2 separate regions of the Homo sapiens genome follow, and region 2 is linked to region 1. The links come from fine-mapping of genetic effects on gene expression. A gene starts in region 1. The other region holds a variant in brackets. All regions are shown on one strand. Distances are between the middles of the regions. Region 1 holds the start of ZNF277 (zinc finger protein 277). Region 2 overlaps ZNF277 (zinc finger protein 277).

The links.
Region 2: its variant is fine-mapped to the expression of ZNF277 in whole blood (INTERVAL, PIP 0.91).

Annotation. Positions count from the first base shown.
Region 1 is chr7:112,203,013-112,211,352 of GRCh38, forward strand. It overlaps ZNF277 (zinc finger protein 277), which reads left to right and starts at 3,683. Exons shown (of 12, transcript NM_021994.3): 1 at 3,683-3,795. The coding sequence starts at 3,705. DOCK4 (dedicator of cytokinesis 4) reads right to left here and starts at 3,387. Exons shown (of 53, transcript NM_001363540.2): 1 at 3,090-3,387. The coding sequence starts at 3,126. RefSeq lists a silencer at 3,259-3,608 and an enhancer at 3,779-3,898.
Region 2 is chr7:112,323,989-112,332,328 of GRCh38, forward strand. It overlaps ZNF277 (zinc finger protein 277), which reads left to right. Exons shown (of 12, transcript NM_021994.3): 6 at 3,729-3,839; 7 at 6,096-6,228. ZNF277-AS1 (ZNF277 antisense RNA 1) reads right to left here. Exons shown (of 3, transcript NR_186626.1): 3 at 4,206-4,410. Among named protein-coding and RNA genes, the nearest start is that of ZNF277-AS1, 22 kb to the right of the region's middle. The variant A/AAAAT (reference allele first, on the strand shown) is at 4,884.

The DNA.
Region 1 (8,340 bases):
CAGTCTCAACACAATGAAGATGTTTTTCTAACCAAAGAACACAGTTAGTTGGAAGAGCTCTACAAAATTAGTACCAGGGAAGGCTTTAGTTAACACTTGCCCCAGACGCTGGGACCCAGAAAGGCTAAGTGATTTACCTAAGGTTACACAGCTGGCAGCAGTGTCTAGCCCAGAATCAAGAGCTAACTAGAATCTCCTAAGGTGAAATTGCCTATCACTGTGCCTCTTAACATGATTTCTAAAAGACAAGGTTCCCTGTTCCTCAGAACTATAACTTCATCACTATACCTTTTCCTAAAATCAGAACACTTATGACTGACTTTTCGTTGTTTTAATGAATTTAATCATTCATTAAATGGGACGGTGCCTATACATCAGTTACGAAAAAGAATTTCCATCTCCGATACATTTAATTACAGATATAAAATTTAACTAATTTTACCCATGTTTACAGTATGCTGCTTAAAATTTAATCATAAGTATATAAAAGCATAATTATCTCATACATAAATGAGGGTATATAAAAAGTACCTTTGCAGAAATATATAATTTATACTAAAACGTCACATATTCTGTTACAAAGACTGATTTATTTCAAAGAATGAAGAAACTAAATTACCACTACACTTGGTAACAAAGATCTGTGCCCATAAGATCTTTTCTTTAACATCTGTAAGAACTACATGAGAAAAACACAAACATTAACCAAGGTTAAAAGAAAAAACAAACAACTTGCAATATAAGCAGCTATAAACAGTGCCCTCCATGGTGAAAAATAAAGTCCACACATAAGTATCCTAGCAAAAATTTCACTACACACACACACACACACACACACACACACACACACACACGCCTAACAGATGGATTCTAAAAAACAGCTAAGCATTCCACAATCCAAATGCTCAAAAATTAATAATAAAGGTTAATTAACATTCTGGCACATGTGATATTGAGAACAACAGCAGTAATTTGGGGCAAAAGACCCTCTCTCTGCTCTCGTCCTTCATCTCATTCAACCTCTTTTTCTCAATTGTGAGCACACCCTTCTGCCTCCCCTACTCTGCAATCAAATCACAACCACCCAAAACCGAGGTGTCTGCTGCAGCCCAAAACATTTGACTGATAATATCCGGTTTGCCATTCCAGGAAATCCCAGAGTGGTTTTTAAGCCTCTGCCCACCGCTTGTAAAGAAAGGCAAGAGAGGAACTAATCGATACCAGCACCCCAGCTGTGACCTGGCACATGAAGAAATCAAGAAAATAAATCCCATCCATAATCTGTATAATTTAACACTTGGAAGAAAGCAACATCTGGGATCGACTCCAAGCAGGACAGTTTTGCCTGGATGGATCTGAGCTTCCTGCACTGAGTGTTAAAGCCGCTTAGGAGGCGATGCCCTCGGGTCCCTCACCAGTCCAGCAAAGGGACTATCTTTTTCCCTAGCAAGGGTTAATCTACCTCCCAAAAAAGAGAAGAGTGAGGAGAACGAAAATAACAACTACTAACATCTACTCCTTGCCAGTAAAGAGGCTGGCAAAGACTCCTCTGACACTTTGAAGGAGGGAAAGCTGGAAACCTTTCCCAAAGGTGGGTTCAGGTCAAACTATTGTCTTGGTAATTAGTCACAATCCAGAATGGAAGCTAACGTGAAATGTGGGAATGATTTTGTTGAATCCTACAGTCCTTTCAATGGACCCCAAAGTCCTATCCCCAGGCAAAGTTGGGAAAAAAAAAAACAAAAATCCCCTCGGACTACGACTCCCTGGGAAGGCTTTCCAGATGTTTTAAATTGCAGGAAAATGAATTTAGAACATAAGCAGATATCTACACATCACCTAAATCACTAGACCTGTCCTCAATTTTAAAACACACACACACACACACACACACACAAAGTACACCAGTCGGCAGAACAGGGCATTATAGGAAATAAAGAGTGTTAGTAAAATCCATAATGCTTTCTGTTAGACCTTCTGGGAGGTTATAATTGCATTTGGCCGGCTGCAGCCTTGTCGGAGAGCCTGGCTTCTTAATAGTCTCAACCCTAAAAGGAGTAACTGTCAAGGGGCGACCCAGCTGAAATCAAACAACAAAAACGGGAACTGTAACCCGCCTGAAATGGGAGGAGGAAAAGGAAGGGAGACTCCTGTATTCATCAGTCAACATTAATGTCCTTTGTTGTTCACCTTTACACAGAACAGCGAGAGCTATCCTGTTCCTTTTTCTCCGAACGCCAGTGTCAGGGTATGCTTTCCTAAAAGCTATCTCCCTGCCCCCAAGAACCAGGCTTTCCGATCCCCCTCCCCATTTATCACTCAGCAGCCCTGTACCGCCACACCGCCCCCACTGCGCTCACCCGGGGTCGAGAGGGTGGCCAGAAGTAAAAACACTGCTGAAATACCCGTTCTTCTCCAAAGACCAAAGAACCGAGCGGCGCAGATGTTGAAATTTACCAATGCCCCCGCCCCGCAACATACACACCCCATAAATCCGGGATCGCAGAGAGGGAGGAGGGTCAGAGAGGGCTCAGCTTGTCAGAGCGGCTCTCTCCAGGACCCTGCCACATTCCACACTCCGGGAATGTCGATCCGAGCCAGAGGGAAGGGTTTGCGCCTCCCTACTGTTTTGGGGGTGTTCTCTCTGCCCGAGTGTTGTTGTCTCCCTCTCCACCCAGAGGAACCGTTGCAGCTCCCTGTCGCTTTGGGGAAGAAGGGTAAGGAAGGAGAGAAACCCCATTCGCCTCCTCTTCCAACTTGACACACACACACACACACACACACACGCCCAGTCGCCACTCCAAACTCCGCAGGCAGAGCCCGAAGCTAGCGGGCCGGCCGCGCGCTCCCCCAAGCTGTCCCGGCGCTTCGGGAACCAGTGCGGGGCGCGCCGAGCAGGCGGTGCGGGGCGAGAGCCTGGTGCGCAGCCCTCTGCCTGGAGCTGGCTCGGCAAAGCCCCGTACCAGCTGCGCGATGCCAGGATTAGGCATTTTCAACCGGGCGGAGCGAGAGGGGCGCGGGGGCAAGGACGAGAAATGCGCACTCGCTCGGGCCAGAGCAGAATAAAAGTTCGCCCCGCGGAGACTCACCCACGCCGTATTTCTCGTGCTCCGTAGGTATCCACATGGCTAAAGGGGCTCCGGGGTCTTCAGGCTTTGTAATCCCCGCGCCCCTTCTCCGGCTCACAACAATGCACAGTCCCCGAGCAGCGCTGCAGTGCCGGAGCCCAGCGGCTTCGCGCGGGCTGCGGGCGCTGGGCAGGATCTGCGCTGGAGGCTCCCGAGCCCAGCGTTGACACTGCGCCGCCCGCAGCTCTCCCGGCGGCGGCTGCTCACAGTCCTCCGACGCGCTCCCGGGTACCCGGCGGCGCAGTCATTGTTCTGATTCACTGAACTAAGCGAACACGCCGGGGCACTCTCCGGCGCACCCCCGCCCGCCAGCGCCTAGTCCAGCCCTCCCGTCCCAGGGCCCCGCAGCACGCTGGGAATTGTAGTTCTTGGCCTCCCCATCCCGGAAGTGGGCGCGGCAAATGTGGTTCGGGGCGGGGATTCAGTTTTACTGATTGCGTCCTATTGGTCCAGAGCGCGGCGTAGGTGTGGAGAAAACATTACGTCGACGGGGAGTTCGCCTCCAGTAGCGTTTCTACTGGTGCCACCCCGCCTCCGACCCGCCCTGCGGCCCTCCCTTTTCTTTTCTGCCGGGTAATGGCTGCTTCCAAGACCCAGGGGGCTGTCGCCCGAATGCAGGAAGACCGTGATGGGAGCTGCAGCACAGTCGGGGGTGTAGGTTATGGGGGTGAGTACGGTGCCCCGGAGGCGCGGCTGATGTGTCTTCCTTTCTCTATGACCGGGTGTGCAACGGACCTCTGGTCTGACCCTAGGAGCCCTTCAGCTCTGGGGCCACCTGGGTTCGACTGGGCCCCACGGGTGGTGGCCCAGCGGGATGGGTTGGAGCCGGTGGCGGCTACTTGGTTGGGGCTGCCCGGGGATGGCGGAGAAAATGCCATGGGATGGCGGAGAAAATGCCATGGAATGGCCTTCCCCTCCGCCGGGGAAGCTCCCTGAGCGTTTGTCTTCTGGTTTGGAGCTCCCAGCTTTGAGCTAGCTGCTGAGTGGGTTTGGTTCAGATCTGGTTCGCGCGCGTGTGTTTATAATTTTGGGATTAGCAGCTCTTTCTCCTCACCAGTACACTGCCTTGGTTTGCTTGGTTTGACCTCGCAGGTGTGTTTTATTTAGCTTCCGGAGTATTTCCAGTCGCAGACTGGTGGTCACTGCTCTCCACTCTACAGATTTGCCCAGTTTGTGGCTGAGGTGACCTCTGAAGGGAAAGTGTGTGTATCTCACAACCTCCCTGTAGATGGTTAACTGCTCTGGGTGTTCTTCAGATTTGTATGTGGAGCCTGAGAGATCTTCCCAGTCTCTGGGTCCTTAGAGAAAGAAAAGGAAAGTGATAGATAATTTGCACTCGTGGCTTCAAAGAACATTTGAAAAGAGTTTTGAAAACCATCACAACTTTGGCTGTACCTGACTTTCAGGTTGTCCTCTGATCCACTGTAGGAATAAAAAACCAAATTTTGAAAGCTGCAGGTGGATTGTGTTTAGGACTCTTTTACCTTTAGTCTATCCCTCCCCCATTCCCCCCACCCCATTTTTGTCTTGATGTGTAATTTAGCACAAGTTGTCTTTTTCTGATGAACATGGTTTGGGGCTTAAATATAGTTCTCAGACTGTTGCGACTTTGTTTTTCGATTTATTTGTTTTTGCTTTCACAGTTAAATTGATATCATCTTAAGTATTTACCTCAGCGGCACAGAGTTGAAGTGCAGTTTTTTCCCACTTCCCAACAGTGGAACTCCCTACTCTGAAATTATTTTAGTACCTCTACCAAACAAATCTTTGGTAGTCTCCTGAGTTAAATATTGAATTTAACACCCTAATGGTTTATTTTTGGGTTGGTTATATATTGGGCTATCTGATGGTAACAGACTATTACGGTTTCCTAGATTTTCAAAGTTCCAGAGGGCTACCAGTTTAAGATCTAAACTGGTGAATTTATCTCACAGTCTAACTTATTTTAAAAAATGGCCGGGCACGGTGGCTCACCCCTGTAATACCAGCACTTTGGGAGGCCGAGGCGAGTGGATCACAAGGTCAGGAGTTCGAGACCAGCCTGGCCAATATGGTGAAACCCCGTCTCTACTAAAAATACAAAAATTAGCCGGGCGTGGTGGCGGATGCCTGTAGTCCCAGCTACTCGGGAGGCCGAGGCAGGAGAATCCCTTGAGCCCGGGAGGCGGAGGTTGTGGTGAGCCATGATCCACCACTGCACTCCAGCCTGGGAGGCAGAGCAAGACTCTGTATCAAAAACAAAACAAAAAAAAAGGATATGCCTTTCAAAAATGTAAAATATTTAAAAATATTTATTTTTAAATTTTACAAGTTTAAAAGTTTTTAAAAGCACTTCAAACCATTCAGAAGTGTATGAAGTAAAAAAAATGAAAATTCCCTCACCTCACAGCACCACTCCCCGAGTATTAAGTGATAAGAGTTTGGTACATATTCTTTCCAACATATTCTTCTTCTTCTTTTTTTTTTTTTAATCCTACAATCCGTATTCTGTTAAACCACCATATTCTTATATGACACACGTCTGTATGATTTGATTTTTTTTTTTTTTTTTTTTTTTTGAGACGGAGTCTCGCTTTGTCAACCAGGCTGGAGTGCAGTGGCGCGATCTCGGCTCACTGCAAGCTCCGCCTCCCAGGTTCACGCCATTCTCCTGCCTCAGCCTCCCGAGTAACTGGGACTACAGGCGCCAGCCAACAAGCCCGGCTAGTTTTTTGTATTTTTAGTAGAGACGGGGTTTCACCGTGTTAGCCAGGAGGTCTCGATCTGCTGACCTCGTGATCCGCCCGTCTCGGCCTCCCAAAGTGCTGGGATTACAGGCGTAAGCCACCGCGCCCGGCCTATGATTTGATTTTTATAATAAAAAGGGATAAATCTATATAAACTGAAAGATCTGCAACCTTCTTTTTTCTTTCAGCAGTCTATCATAGAAACCCTTCCACGTCAGTACATTTGTTTCCTTTTTTTTTAAGGACTGTGCCCATCATATTCCAAAATATGATTGTGCCATTCTTTATCCATTCCCTTATAAATGAACATATAGTGTGACTTTAGTTTTTCAGTAATGTTGCAATGAACAACTTTATGTACATATATTCTTGCCCACTGGTTGTATATTTTGGGAGAAAATTGCTGGATCAAAGGTTATGCAAGTTTAAAATTTTGACAGATGCCAGACTTTCCTCTTAAAATATATTCAGCATACATTGCCACCTGTAGTATATGAGTGTTCTTTCCCCCATATTGTCACAAACTTTGAGGAAATAATCCAGGACCAATGTTTCAATGACTAGTAGATTGAATTAAGTAACTGATAGAAAGCTTAGTTTTTGATTCCAGTTTGTTTTCAATAAAAGTGTTGAGTAGTAGTGAATTTGCGGTATCTATAACATAAAAAAATTTCTCACCCTCGGTGAGAAATACCCAGTATTCTCATTGACTTGTAGCAGTCAACAGGAGAAATTAATGGTTGATTTTTTATGTCATTTTTATAAGATAAAGTTGTCATTAAAAATTCTGCTTAATAACCTATGTATCATTCTGTTACTTTTTCCAAAATCTTTTCAAAGCCAACAAGGTGTGATATAAATTTTAGGTGTAAATATTTATATTAAAAGTATATTTTTTGTTAGGCAGTCATTTAGGTTATCAAGTATGTCTTTCCCTGTAAAAATCATACACCTTTTTGGATGAGTTCATGTCCTTTGTAGGGACATGGATGAAGCTGAAAACCATCATTGTGAGCAAACTATCGCAAGGACAGAAAACCAAACACCACATGTTCTCACTTATAGGTGGAAATTGAACAATGAGAACACTTGGACACAGGGCAGGGAACATCACATACCCGGGCCTGTCGTGGGGTTGGGGGATGGGGAAGGGATAGCATTAGGAGAAATACCTAATGTAAATGACGAGTTAATGGGTGCAGCAAACCAATATGGCACATGTATACATATGCAACAAACCTCCAAGTTGTGCACATGTACCCTGGAACTTAAAGTATAATAAAAATAAAATTTTTAAAAAACATACACCTTTTTGACTTCTTGAAAACTGCTTCTTTTAAGAGATTTTCTTCTTGCTCTGATTAAAATGTTAGTCTGTGTGTTTAATACCCTGGGACAGTGAGGCCTAGGAAGACTTTTTATAGAAATCCTTGCAATTCCTCAAAATCTCTGCTAGAGTGAGTCAGTGGGTGGGGTGCAGGCAGGTGCAACACTCACTGAGACCACTGTGTTGCCAGACTTCTGTGGCTCCATCCTTCTCCAAGAAAGTCCCCACATTGAGGTCAAGGATTTTTTTGCTTTTTTTGTTTTTGTTTTTTGTTTTTTTTTTTTGTTTTTTTTTTTGAGACAGAGTCCTGCTCTGTAACCCAAGCTGGAGTGGAGTGGCACGATCTCAGCTCACTGCAACCTCCGCCTCCCGGGTTCAAGTGATTCTCCTGCCACAGCCTCCCGAGTAGCTGGGATTACAGGCGTGTGCCACCATGCCCAGCTAATTTTTATATTTTTAGTAGAGACAGAGTTTCGCCATCTAGGCCAGGCTGGTCTCAAACTCCTGACCACAGGTGATCCACCCTCCTCGGCCTCCCAAAGTGCTGGGATTACAGGCGTGAGCTACTGCACCTGGCACACTAGGTCAAGGGTTAAAGGACACTGCTTTACATACATCTGAACAGTAACCAGAATTTCAATTTGTCTCCTAAAATTAAGAACAGATAATAAATAGATTCAGCATCCCTCACGTGGTGTCATTGGCATTTGTTCTTTTGCTGTTTTTAAAAATCAGCAAGGTAGCACAATTCAGTAATAATACATTTAGGAGGCTTTTGTGACTGAGGCTATTTCTTCTGAGTATTAATCTGTATCTCCATATTGTAATATTCTGTCAAAGTCAACTTTTTTCCCTCCGAATGGGTGTTTAGTAGTTGATGATTTTGCTAATGCTTGGATTCTGGACCTTATTATCTGATGATTTTGGTAATGTTTATCTTCCAGAGAACTTACTATCTCATGTGTGATGTCTCTGGAAGAAAGAGGGAAGGGTAGCAGGTGATGTAAACTCCTCATTCTTGTATTTCCTATTTCAATAAATGGCATCAAGTCTAAGCTAGAAACCTAGGAAGCATCCTTGATTCCTAACTCGCCCTCAGGTACTGAATTTGATCAGTTAGCAAGCCTTATTTTTCTGCGCCTGTAGTATATTTTGAACC
Region 2 (8,340 bases), 120 kb after region 1:
TATTTTAAGTAAAACTTCATTTCAGCCCAAAAGGTATTATGTATTTATAGTTATTACATGCTTTTAAGGACCATTGTGAATGTGAAAAAATATAATACCAGTGCTACTTGATTTACAGTGGGGTTACATCTCAATAAAGTCATTGTACATTTAAAATATTGTAAGTCAAAAAAAATTTAATATACCTAACCTACCTTAGGCATGCTTTGAACACTTACATTAGCCTACAGATAGGCAAAATTGCCCAACACAAACTGTACTTTATAATAAAGGTTTGAATATCTGATGTAATTTATTGCATATTGCACTGAAAGTAAAAAACAAAATAGTTGTATGGGTACTCAAAGTACAGTTAGTTCATTAATAATAAAATTAAGTTTATAAAGAAAGGAGTTGCAATAATAATTTAAACTGTTATGCATTTAATTTCCCATAAATTAAAGCAAGTTGACATTAGGAATTAATTTAAAAATTAAAGAAGTAATTCAGCAATTTGAGGAATCATCTTGGCTGATCAAGAATTAAAGGACTTCAAAATCTGACATGAAGCAGATCACATAAGGTGCCATCTCTACTCCAAAGCCCCAAAGATTTTCTTGGCCCTTTACCAACCAGCAACTGTGGCTACAAGGGTGAAGCCTTTCCTCCCTTCTCACCTCAGACTAATAGGCTGAATCAAGCTAATTTTGAATTAGCTAGCAAACCACTTAGGTACTTGTATTAGTCAGGGTTCTCCAGAGAAACAGGACCAATATTATATATAGATATATAAGCGGAGACATATTATGGGAATTGGCTCACACAATTATGGAGGCCGAGAAGTGCCACAGTATGCCATCTGCAAGTTGGAGATTCAAGAAAGCCAGTGGTAAATTCAGTCTGAGTCTAAAGGCCAGAGAACCATGAACTTGAATACCTAGGGACAAGAGAAGATGAATTTCCCAGCTCAACTATCTGGGCCCCCATGGCTTGGATGATGCCTCCCCTCATTGGTATGGGCTATCTTCTTTACTCAGTCTGCTGATTCACATACTAATCTCTTCCAGAAACATCCTCACAGACACACCTAGAAATGCTATTTTTACCAGCTATCTGGGCATCCTTTAACCAGGTCAAGCTGACTTGTAAAATAAACTACCATAATATTGGAGAGGACAGCCAGCCCCTTCTTGAGCCTGCTGCCAGTTCCATCTGTACCTGGCCCCCTTTTCAGAGCCTGGATATCAGGCTTGGAATCCTGGGTAGTCCTGGCTAAGGCTAGGCCACTCCTAGGGGAACCTCACCTGAAACCAGAAGACATCAAGGACCACCAGTTCAGAGCATGGGACCAAGTGCAGACTGTTAACCCCACCAACCCTCTTCCTAACACTGACTTTGCCTTCACTCAGTCTCCTTCCAGCTCTTAGATGTCAGTCATAGAACCCTTGGCAAACCTGGCTCAATTTTGGCCCACTGTGGTAGAACTGTCCTTGATCCAGAAGGCATTAGGGATGGTAGCAATTAAGTATGTGGCCAGGGTAGCCTCCCAACACTCATATCTGCTTTGAGACAGCTGCTTGTTAGCCCTCGTTCCCTCACTTTCAATATCTGTATTCCTGTCTGGCAGGCCCCAAAAAAGTTCAGAGCAAGCCTAGGCTCACACATGGGCTTGTTCTCTGGGGCAACATTGCCTGAGATCATGGGGACCTTCCTAGTACACCTATACCTCCTGAGCCAGCTCTTGGTCCATTCCAAGGCTTGGGTGTCAGGCCTGAAAGCCCTGGGTAGACCTGACATGCTTGGTTACTGTTGGGGGAACACTTTGGAGTCAGGAAGGTCTGGCCTATAAGCCTGGAAACAAGTTCTAAGGACTGTCAGTCTGTTCCACCCACATCCCTCCCAGCAAGCTGCTGGCTGCGGCCAAAATCCTTGCTGAACCAATCCTCTTAGGTCCCAGAAGCCACTGTGGCCTACCTGAACAGAGTCTTCGAGACTGGCCAAGCCTCCAAACTCATTTACCCCAGGAGCCAACCACTGGCCTCTCATCTCGTAACTCAGACTCTAGATGCCAGATTCTTGAGCCCCAGAGAGGTTGAGAGCCGGATTCAGCTCCCCTGAGTACATTCAGTGTGACTCTTAATGGCAAGATATTTTGATCCTAGATAGACTGAGGGTGAGGGAAACCTCCCAACCCACCCATACCCCTTGAGTCAGATACCATTTCTGACAGCACCCAGGCACAATCTAGGCTCTAGATCTTCATCCTGGAAGTTCTAGGCAGATGTTAACTATGGCTCGGCCACTCTAGGAGAACCTCCCTGAATCCAGAGGCACTGTACTTTACCCCAACATGGCCTCGGGGATAGGGGGAACTTTCTTACCCTCTGCCTGACACCCTTCCCCCACCCCAAAACACACACACACACCTACCACACTGCCTACAAGAGGCTCTCAGCTCTGCTTTCACCTGAACTCTTCCACAGCCTGAGCCTCAGGTCTGGAACCCCTGGAAAGGTCTAGCTCTGTCTGGGCTGCCCCTGGGAAAACCTTTGTGGGCCCAAAAGGCACTGTGAACTACCCCAACAAGTAGTTTTAGTCAAAGTTATCAGTAATAGGCAGTGAGACAAATGAGCATACTAACCACAAGGTTAATAAATGTATCTCTTACATAGTTAAAAAAAAAAAAAGTCAACAAACATTTTTATAGAAATGTTTGCTTTATTTCTTTATTTCACTTTCTCAAGGGGAAAAAAAACACTGAAAACATTTTTTTGGGGGGGGACCAGGTAAGTGTCTAAATAATCTAGATAAAACCATATGATATGTCACTATGCATAGTCTATCAATGGTACTTATACTGATGAGGCTCTCCAAAACAATCACCTTTATTTTATGAACTAAAGTTGTGATAAAAGCTCTGTAGAATATACTATACACATATGCTTTTTTGCTATGTAAAAGTTACATAATTACATTTGTCCTTTTCTGTATAAATTAATCAAGAAGTTGGTCATTGTTTTGCAGGTTATCACAGCCCTTGCATTTAATAGACCTGTTAACTGTGGGTTCCAGGTCATTGTCCAATGATACTCTGGCTAAATGCCTGTGATCTTAGGTCATAGCTGGTTGTATTTTCTGTTAGGCAGTTGCCTCTTACTCGTCTCCATGATGAATTGGAAAAGTAGAAGCAGCACAGTTAATTTAATAGTTTAAAGCAGTGATCCCCAACCTTTTTGGCACCAGGGACCAGTTTCAGAATGAAACTGTTTTATCTCAGATCATCAGGCATTAGATTCTCATAAGAAGTACACAACCTAGATCCCTCGCATGCACAGTTTACAAAAGGGTTCGCGCTCCTATGAGAATCTAATGCCACCACTGATCTGACAGGAGGCGGAGCGCAGGTGGTAATGCTCACTTTCCCGCCTCTCACCTCTTTCTGTGCAGCCTGCTTCCTAACAGGCCATGGACCGATACCCCTGGTTTAAAGGACAGAACCTGATTCTTCTATAGAGTGTAGCCAAGCAGCAGATAGTAGAACAAACTTTGGTATCCCTTTACAGAACTGATGTGACTGTGTACACTTACATACTTTATAATGTCACTCTTTAATAGCTGAAATCTTTGTGTTAGTGCTTAGCACTTGCTTATACCTCTAATTAGTGTTTTTATTATGTGAATGCTATTCCAACCCAAATGTGTTCTTAGATGATTTGTGAATAATCCTAATTGCTCAAATTTCTTCCTAGATCTGTTATTTTGAACCACATGGCCAGAGAACATGCTTTCAACATTGGATTGCCAGACAACATTGTAAACTGCAATGAATTTTTGTGTACATTACAGAAAAAGCTTGACAAGTAAGTACTGATTTATGAAACACTGCCTAAAGCTGTTTTAATCTTGGACTCTGTTGTGAATATTTTTAAATTAATTTAATAGAGTAATTAAAGAAGTGGGAATTTCCCATGTTGGAGGAGTTCACATTTTGTACGACAGTCCTTATTTTGTCTAGATCATATTGCCCTTTGGTGTTTTTTAAATTTTTCAAATACACTATGTCATATATACCAAACAATATACATATCATACAATGTATGCCGTATAGGATATGAAGAATATACTCACTGTCTAGCCTAAGAAATAGAACATTGTTAATTCCTTTGAATCTCCCTGTGTGTCTTTCCTCATTAGTATTTCCCCAGAAACCACTATTCTTAATTTTGTAATTGTAATTCCTTTACTTTTCACTGTAACTTGTCTACATATTCAATAAGGTAAATATATTGTCAAATTATGGAATGGTGTTTAATTTTGTGTGAAACGTAGCATACTGTGTGTATTCTTCTGCCTTTTGGTTTTCATTCACATTTGTATATAATACTCCATTTCCTCAAGGTCATATTCTGGCAACCATATCTGGAGCTTAGCCTGTTGAAATAAGGAAGAAAATTCTTTAGGTCACCAAAATGACTTTCAAAAACGTATCCACTTTTCTTTCTAGGAAAGGGCCCAAAATTTTTTCTCTGAGAACCCAGTTTTCTTTATTTAAATAAAATACTAACAAGTGTGGTGCTTCAACCCACAACACTGAGAGCAACAACATAGAAAAAAAAATAAGGGCCGGGTGTGGTAGCTCACACCTGTAATCCCAGCACTTTGGGAGGCCGAGGTGGGCGGATCACCTGAGCTCGGGATTTTGAGACCAGCCTGACCAACATGGAGAAACCCCATCTCTACTAAAAATACAAAATTAGCCGGGCATGGTGGTGCATGCCTGTAATCCCAGCTACTCAGGAGGCTGAGGCAGGAGAATCGCTTGAACCCGGGAGGCACAGGTTGTAGTGAGCAGAGATTGCACCATTGCACTCCAGCCTGGGCAACAAGAGCAAAACTCTGTCTCA[A/AAAAT]AAATAAATAAATAAATAAATAAGAGGAAGCAAGTAATACAGATTAATTATAAGAAATTTTTAACTCAAATTTTGATGTCACCACTATGTTAAATCGAGTCCCTTCACCCTTTTGTTAAACGACTACCTATAAAATAAGACCAGATGTGCCTTCTAGCAAGATTAGCAATAATGAATATATATAATCAGCTTATCACCCATAAATTGTCAACTATAAAAGAATATACTACAAAAGAATATTATTATGCCCTGGAATATATTCTTTGGCATAAGAAATTGATGAAAAGGTGTTTAGTAGAGATAAAAACAAATTCAAAATTGAAACAATAACAGATTGCAATCATTTGAGAGTTTCCCATGTAAAATATATTATACTTAGACACTATATGGCTCCAGAAAGTAGAACTCTCTACTTTTTACTGAGTAGCAATTATAATACATGTTGTATCAACTGTCAGGCTTAGTATGAGAAAGACATTTTGTTAATAATCTGCTCAAAACTGGTAATCACTGCTTCATTAGGTAATGAATGCCCAGTCAGTGGAAATATTTGAGCAGAAGGTATATGAGAATTATATGGTAGTAACAGCTACTATTTATCTTATTCACATACATGAATAAATACCTAGCACAGTTCATAGTGCATAGTAAGTGCTCAATAAATATATATATATGAAATTATCATTTAAAAATCTCTAAAATGTTGGTATTATCTTCAGTTTAGAAATCAGAAAATGGCAACAGAGAAGGGAAGTAACTTAAAGTCCCACAGCTAGCTGGCACTGGAGCAAGGAATTAAACCCTGCAAATCAGCTCACAGGATATCCCAAACCATGTACTAATTATTACATACAATGGGTGCAGTCAGTGCAAGTCATTATAATTAATTGAAGAACATACCTACATACTTATTTTAGAATAGGTAATTCAGTTAGTAAAGAACCAAAATAATTTTTGGATATTACCTATCTTTGTCACAGTCTTAACTGAATAGCAAAGTTGGTCAACTTAGCTGACTACAAAATACACCATACTATGCACTCTACAAAGCCAAATGAATAAAGTGAGGGGGGATTCTGACAAGGATGGTATATCCCATTTGAAGATGCTGTGTAACCTAAAATGAATAAATATGAAACTCAATAATAATAAAGGATTATTGCAGCAACTATACAAGAGACTTGTTTATCAGTGTTTGTGTATTTCTTGTAGTTTGCAGTGCTTGTACTGTGAGAAGACCTTCAGGGACAAAAATACACTTAAAGATCACATGAGGAAAAAACAGCATCGTAAGATTAATCCTAAGAACAGAGAATATGACAGATTTTATGTCATCAATTATTTGGTAAGGCTTTCTTTTCATAACTTAAAATTTGATTGCAGTACTGCAAACAAAATCTTTCTGAGGACCAACTAATATTTGAATAAGCAATTATTGCAAAAGTCAAAATGTAATTGAGGGGCACATTCAAGTAGTGATTAGCTTTGAAATGGTTAGAGTACAAGACATTTGATTTGACTTGTCTTTTATTTGACAGTGTTTATGTAGTAAAAATGTCATGTCTCTAGAACTCACAGTCATCTTGACCAAAAAAAAAAAAAATACAGCATTTGGATATCCACATACCATCCCCCATTTATGTAATATCTTTTAACTTGGGGCCAGAGACTCCTTTCTTTTTTTTTTTTTTTTTTTTTTTCTTTTTTTCTTGAGATGGAGTTTTGCTGTGTCGCCCAGGCTGGAGTGCAGTGGCACGATCTCGGCTCACTGCAACCTCTGCCTCCTGGTATCAAGCAATTCTCCTGCCTCAGCCTCCCCAGTAGCTGGAATTACAGCTACTGTGCTGCACAGCACTGGGATTACACCACACTTGGCTAATTTTTGTATTTTTAGTAGAGACAGGGTTTCTCCATGTTGGCCAGGCTGGTCTCGAACTCCTGGCCTCAAGTGAACCACCAGCCTTGCCCTCCCAAAGTGCTGGGATTATAGGAGTGAGCCACCACACCTGGCCAGAGAGACTTCTATATATTCTATTCAAAAGAAACTGTTGAGTACTGGATGTGTTAGGTGCTATGCAAAATAATTCTTTAAAAACAATCTCTTTGCTCTTTCCCCTTCACCCCTACAAAAGTGTGTATCTTTATCATTCTCTTCAGTCAGCTTATTTTTAAGGGAAGTTTCAAGGAAACCAAACCATTTTACTATGGAAGGGGATTTTTATTTGTTTGGCTTGTAGGGTAGACTAACCAGGTTACCATGCCAAGCATTTTAAATGTATTGATAGCTCTCCTTTCCAAGAGGCATTCAGATGGAGACAGTGGGGGATGGGGAGAGGCATTTGGAAATATGGGAGGGGATTTTTGATAGACAACAATGACTGGGGAACTGGGCCTGCCTTCAATCTACTGATTTTTAAAAAATATATATGACAAAGGAGGGAAACTACTCATATAAAAGAAGAGGTTATGTAACTCTCCAGAGGAATTGGAAGAAAAACAGAGAGTTCTGTTTTGAATGGGCATTTTTCTTAAGCAAATGGAATTTTTTTCTCTCTCAATGTAAATGAATTAAAACCCAAACCCACTGGTCACAAAAGGCTAATTGAATATAATCAGCCATTTTATCTATTGGATAGAAACAAGCATATCCTGAATTATGTTGGAAATCTCTGCTTTAGGGTGGAATTTTGTCTGTTCTAACTATTCCTTGTAGTGTTAAAATTCCCCTTGAGAAGCAAGTTTAACATGTGTTTGAAGATTGACTCTAAGAGGTTGCCATGGTTTTCTACAAATGTTTTACAACCAGCTAAAGGCAAACGTACCCTTTGAGCTTTTCAATCTTTTCTTGAAATCACTCAGTCATTACTTCCTAGAGCAAATGCTGCTTCAGGACCCAGCCCAGTCTAATAGGGAGTGGACTTCAGTGCTAGCTCTAAGAAATATTCAGCTACTGCATCTAGCTATAGGAGCAATTTAATAGTTCTTCCTTCTGGGGCTCTTTTAAAACTAATATTCAAGATCTTGAGACTAGCAGAACATTATATAGCTGGAGGTTTTCACCTTTTAGAGGAGACTTCAAGGGATTTGCTCACTCTTATTCTGCCAGCACTTTTAGAAAAGTATGATACTTCATTTCCTGGGCATCAAGTAGGGTAGCTGTCAAAACTGAAATCATCTGCCAGGGCCAGCCATCTCTGGATGAGCATGGCAGATTGTGCTGCTCATACAGGGCACGGATTTGATGTGGCGTGGACTACACATTAAGAGAAGTGTTTCAAAAGAAAGTAAGGGCTTTAACAACGTACAAAATGAAAATTAAATTACAACTTTAGAGTCATATTGATAGAAGTCTTTTTTTTAGCTAGCAGCTATTTGAGTACTTATAATCTGCAGGCACTATCCTAGGTATTTATATTAAATTGTTTAATTTAAGTCACAATTTTGTGACACAGGTATT